2 separate regions of the Homo sapiens genome follow, and region 2 is linked to region 1. Evidence: fine-mapped expression QTL. Tissue or cell type: testis. Region 1 holds a variant in brackets; the other region holds the start of a gene. All regions are shown on one strand. Distances are from middle to middle.

Evidence for each region. PIP is the estimated chance that this variant, and not a neighbour inherited with it, causes the effect.
Region 2: STARD3 starts here. The variant in region 1 is fine-mapped to the expression of STARD3 in testis (GTEx, PIP above 0.99).

What each region holds. Positions count from the first base shown.
Region 1 is chr17:40,100,005-40,102,684 of GRCh38, reverse strand. It overlaps NR1D1 (nuclear receptor subfamily 1 group D member 1), which reads left to right and starts at 2,096. Exons shown (of 8, transcript NM_021724.5): 1 at 2,096-2,621. The coding sequence starts at 2,591. RefSeq lists enhancers at 1,731-1,850, 2,331-2,400, 1,866-2,680. The variant G/A (reference allele first, on the strand shown) is at 1,187.
Region 2 is chr17:39,635,976-39,638,655 of GRCh38, reverse strand. It overlaps STARD3 (StAR related lipid transfer domain containing 3), which reads right to left and starts at 1,512. Exons shown (of 15, transcript NM_006804.4): 1 at 1,425-1,512. PPP1R1B (protein phosphatase 1 regulatory inhibitor subunit 1B) reads right to left here. Exons shown (of 7, transcript NM_032192.4): 7 at 2,032-2,680. It overlaps LOC124903998 (a long non-coding RNA gene), which reads left to right and starts at 1,366. Exons shown (of 2, transcript XR_007065749.1): 1 at 1,366-1,665. RefSeq lists an enhancer at 841-960 and a silencer at 1,501-1,570.

The DNA of each region.
Region 1 (2,680 bases):
CTCCATGTTGGCCAGGCTGGTCTCAAACTCCTGACCTCGGGTGATCCACCTGCCTCGGCCTCCCCAAGTGCTGGGATTACAGGTGTGAGCCACCACCACACTTGGCCTTTTTTTTTTTTCTTTGAGATGGACTCTCACCCTGTTGCCCAGGCTGTTGTGCAGTGGCATGATCTCGGCTCACTGCAATCTCCATCTCCTGGGTTCAAGCAATTCTCCTGCCTCAGCCTCCCGAGTGGCTGGGACTACAGGCGTGCGCCACCACGCCCAGCTAATTTTTGTATTTTTAGTAGAGATGGGGTTTCACCATGTTGGCCAGGCTGGTCTCGAACTCCTGACCTCAGGTGATCTGCCCACTTCAGCCTCCCAAAATGCTGGGATTACAGGTGTCAGCCACCACCCCCGGACTCCCATATTCTTTTTCTCTACCTTTTCGGTGGCTTTCATGTTTCCCAGGCATCCATCAATACCATCCCAGGAGCTGCCTGTGGAGAAGGGCTTCCTATGTGAAGAAAACCCTCTCTAGAAGCACTGGGACTGGGGAGGAATTAGCGGGAGCAGCAGGTGGCTCAGGCTCCCTCTCCCTTCGCTGCCTAAGAAGCTTCCATCCCCTCCATGACCCAAGCCCTCTAACATGATAGATCTCCTCTACTTGAGATCTGTTATTACTCATGGGACAGTTGCTGCTCTGAAGCGAAATACTGGCTGTTTTTTGTTTGTTTGTTTTGGAGACAGAGTCTCACTCTATCCCCCAGGCCGGAGTGCAATGGCGATCTCGGCTCACTGCAACCTCCACCTCCCGGGTTCTAGCGATTCTCCTGCCTCAGCCTCCTGACTAGCTGGGATTACAGGCACCCACCACCACATCCGGCTAATTTTTGTATTTTTAGTAGAGACGTGGTTTCACCGTGTTGGTCAGGCTGGTCTCAAACTCCTGACCTCAGGTGATCAACCCACCTCAGCCTCACAAAGTGCTGGGATTACAGGCATGAGCCAAAGCACCCGGCAATGCTGGCTGTTTCTAACCCCTGTTCAGTATTTCACTTGTACATCTACCCACCTTCCCATTCGGGGTGGGCAGATGAAACTAGCAATGGACGTCTGACCTTGGGTCGGTCACTTCTCCTAAGCTTCCTGTTCCCCACTAGTAAAAAGAGGGAGGCTTAAGATGATCTACATGTTCCCCTCT[G/A]AGTAGTAATCTTCTGTGGAATTCATATTTTATCCTCCAGCACCGAGGGGCAGGGGTGTCACTCTGCCCCCACCCCCTGCCTCACCTCTTCCCCATTACTTTAGGACCTCAAAGCACTTTCACTATTAGTTCCCCTCTGTTGTCCTTTTTATTTCCCAGACAAAGGGAAATGACTCACCCCAAAGTCAACTGGAGTGGGTGGAATGGTGTCATACAAGCAAACAGGGAGTCCCTACAGACATCCCTACCTCTGTGGGAACTCCTTCCCCTGGAGGTGTTCTCCCTAAGGCGAGTAGAAGGGAAAGGGGGTCACATTTCCTTTCCTTCTCTGGACTTTGCCCTGAAGCAGAGGGCAGCCTAAGCTCCTGACTCCAGGGAAATCTCCCTCCCCGGCTTCTCTCTCTCCCGGTCACCAGTAACCTCAGGACGAGGTCAGTCCTGCAATCACGTGAAGCCCTCACGTTTGCAAGGTTTGCAGAAAGGGCCTCTTAGCTTTGATCTCCCAGACAGCAAACAAGCTTGCCAGTCCCTCCCCAGAAATTCACATGCCCCTGCCATACAGGCTTTCTAAACACGCCACCCTGACTCTTCAGCGCACCCCACCCCACCCCACTCTCAGCTCCTCCCAGGTCCCGGCAAGCGCTTTGCCAGGCAGAAAGGGGAAAGGCACGCAGTCCGCCCACTTTGTCGGTGGACTACAAATCCCGACAGTCTTGTCGTTGCGCAGGCGCGCAAGAGCTCAACGTGCCGGCTGTTGGAAAAGTGTGTCACTGGGGCACGAGGCGCTCCCTGGGATCACATGGTACCTGCTCCAGTGCCGCGTGCGGCCCGGGAACCCTGGGCTGCTGGCGCCTGCGCAGAGCCCTCTGTCCCAGGGAAAGGCTCGGGCAAAAGGCGGCTGAGATTGGCAGAGTGAAATATTACTGCCGAGGGAACGTAGCAGGGCACACGTCTCGCCTCTTTGCGACTCGGTGCCCCGTTTCTCCCCATCACCTACTTACTTCCTGGTTGCAACCTCTCTTCCTCTGGGACTTTTGCACCGGGAGCTCCAGATTCGCCACCCCGCAGCGCTGCGGAGCCGGCAGGCAGAGGCACCCCGTACACTGCAGAGACCCGACCCTCCTTGCTACCTTCTAGCCAGAACTACTGCAGGCTGATTCCCCCTACACACTCTCTCTGCTCTTCCCATGCAAAGCAGAACTCCGTTGCCTCAACGTCCAACCCTTCTGCAGGGCTGCAGTCCGGCCACCCCAAGACCTTGCTGCAGGGTGCTTCGGATCCTGATCGTGAGTCGCGGGGTCCACTCCCCGCCCTTAGCCAGTGCCCAGGGGGCAACAGCGGCGATCGCAACCTCTAGTTTGAGTCAAGGTCCAGTTTGAATGACCGCTCTCAGCTGGTGAAGACATGACGACCCTGGACTCCAACAACAACACAGGTACTGAGATTTCTTTACTATCATCTTTTCCCTGTCACTGTCTCCCCACCTCCATCTAC
Region 2 (2,680 bases), 460 kb after region 1:
AGCTACTATGCTATTATGGACAGGGTGCTACAGGACACAGAAGGGCAATTAACCTTGGGGGTTAGGCGGAGGCAGCGCTGCCTGCGCTGAAAAACATGTAGAAGGTAGCCCAGCAGACAAGAGAAGGAGGAGGTTTCCAAGCAGCGGGGGCTGGTGTGTGCAAAGTCATGAAGATACGAACAGCAAGGGTAGGCATGGCGCATGCTGCAGTGCCGTATTATTGGACCTTAGGGTGCACACAGGAGACTGCTAGGTCAGATCACAGAGAGCTGTGTAAATTGTGCTAGGGGTTCAGCACATAGGCAATAGAAAGCCAGAAAAAGGTTATCAGCAAGGAACTGGCACCGTAAGACTTGTGTTCTAAAAGGATCACAAGAGTTACAGTTTGGAGACTGGGTTGCAAGCTGCCAGGGCTGGACTGTTGGGAATTGACAATACATCAACAGCGTGGTAACAGAAGAGATGGAGCTGGCCCAGGTTTGAAGGATGTTCAGGAAGTTGGCAGTACTAGGTCACTTTTAAGATGTGGGACTTGAAAGAGAGGAGAAAGTGTAAGGAAATTACCAGACTTCCGGCTGGGTTGGGGTAGAGGAAGAATTAATCTGCAAGGAAAAGACCAGTTCAAGTTTGGACCCAGTGAGCTCCATGTGAAGCAGAGCTGTCCCAATGGCCGCTGGATGGGCAAGCGTGGAGCTCCAGGGAAGGGCTGCGCTGAAGATGTGGATCTGGGTATTTAGTTGGTGTAAAGCTGAAGCCGTGGGGGAAAATAAGACCACTGAGATTCAGTGTACAGAGCGAGGGGTTGGGCGACAGAGGAAAACGTGAAGCGGGACTTTGACCGACTGTCAGAGCGGTACGAAGAAAACCAGGAGACATTGACTAACCCAAAAATGCGGGGTGAGGGAACGTGTCATTAGAAATGAGTGTCAATGGTACTATGCACCTCTAAGAACTCAAGACTTCAAAGGGCCCTTTTAATACCAATTAGGAAGTTATTCACGGCCGTTTCGAAAGGAAGTTGGGGAGACACGGGATGACACTGAGACGCAGAGCTACCGGAATGCGTAGATGTTTTCCTCTCACCCCAGATTCCGACCCCTCCCCATACCTGCCCCTGCTCATAACACCCAGACACCTCACCCTCTCCTCTCCCCTCAGTTAAGACGGAGGCTTTGGAAGGAGATCCCGAACGTCCTCCCCGGGCTCCCCAGGATAGGCGGGGTCGCCAAGAGTCATTGCTGGAGACCCCAACCCGCGCGGGGCGGCGCGAGGCCAGACAGAGGAAGGGGGCGGAACCTGAGACGCAGCGGGTGTGGGAAGGGTCGGACGGAACCCAGCACGGACAGCGGGCGGCGAAGCGGGTTCGACCGGCGGAAGACGGCCCTCGCACGCCACCCGCTCCCAGCGACCGCTCCGGGACCCACCTGCTCCATGTCAGCCACGGCCCCGGCTCTTCCCGCCCCAACCGCAGTCCGGCTCCGCGGCCTCAGTAGCGCCTCAGAGCGGAAGAAGATCTTCCGGCAGCGCCACTTCCGCCGCTGAGTCCGCCCCCGAGAGCGAAGCGGGACTTGCGTTCGCCTGCGGCCCCGCCCCTTCGCCCCGCCTCCAGCCCCGGCCCTGCGCAGAAGCGGACTCAAAGGCCGGAGTCTAAGGGCCTACCTAAGGGTAGGGGAGTGGGAAGAAGACCAGGGCCGTCGTTATTAGGCCACACAGGCCTGGCACTGAGGGAAAAAGGGGAATTTCCCGAGGGGAGTCCTGTGGGGATGGGGAAATCTTTGGAGGAATCCAGTTATTCGAGAAGGACTTCCCCACCCCACCTGCCTCCTTCAGCCATCCCAAGCAGCAGCTAGAACTTCTGTAGTTCTTCCTCTGAGTGCCCCGAGCCTGCTGTCTGCCAGAAAGACTCCTAGACTAGAGGATTGGACAGTAGGGTCAAAACCCTAACCCTTGGTTGACCACCGGCCTTCCCTATCAGGACGCCCCATTACCTCCCTTTTCCTCCTGCTTCCCCTGAAAGAGGAGTCTCAGCAGTTATTTACAAAGATTTATTACAGCACGGGAGGGGTTCAGGCCTGGAGTCAGGGAAGAAGGGGAAAGGGGCAGAGCAGCTGGGGGACAAGGAAAACCTGGCGCCCCCCGCTGTGTGCCCCACCGGGGACATAAACTAGGCGGCATTCCTGGCATCAAAGCACAAAACGCAACAAAGAGGTCTCTGCCAGTCCATCTTCCAGGCACCCAGGAGGAGCAAGGGTGATTAAGGGAAGATTCCCAAAATGTTGAGGCTATGGAGAAAAACGCCTTAGTCCTGGACCCTGGTAGAAGCCGGTGAGAGAAGTGGTGACTTGGAATCCTCCATAGGAAAGTGGGTAGAAAAGGATCTAAGGGTACCTCAAGGTTCTCAGGACCTCCTTTCCCCAGATCTTAGGGTCCTGCCCTGTGGGTCTCCTGTGTCCAGGGGAGAGGATCTGGGGAGTAGAATTGTGAAGGGCAAATCCCTGTTCCCGGTTTTCTGGATTTTCCAATGTGGGCTGTCTCACATCCCACCTCCCGCTGGGTGAATGGAGGAATGACTGGCAGGGGTGGGCATCAGGCAGCAAGTGCCCAGGTTCTCTGGGTATCAGCCAAAGGTGGGCAAACAAGCAAACACAGACCAGCCTTAGTCTTCTAGAAGTCAGAAGCC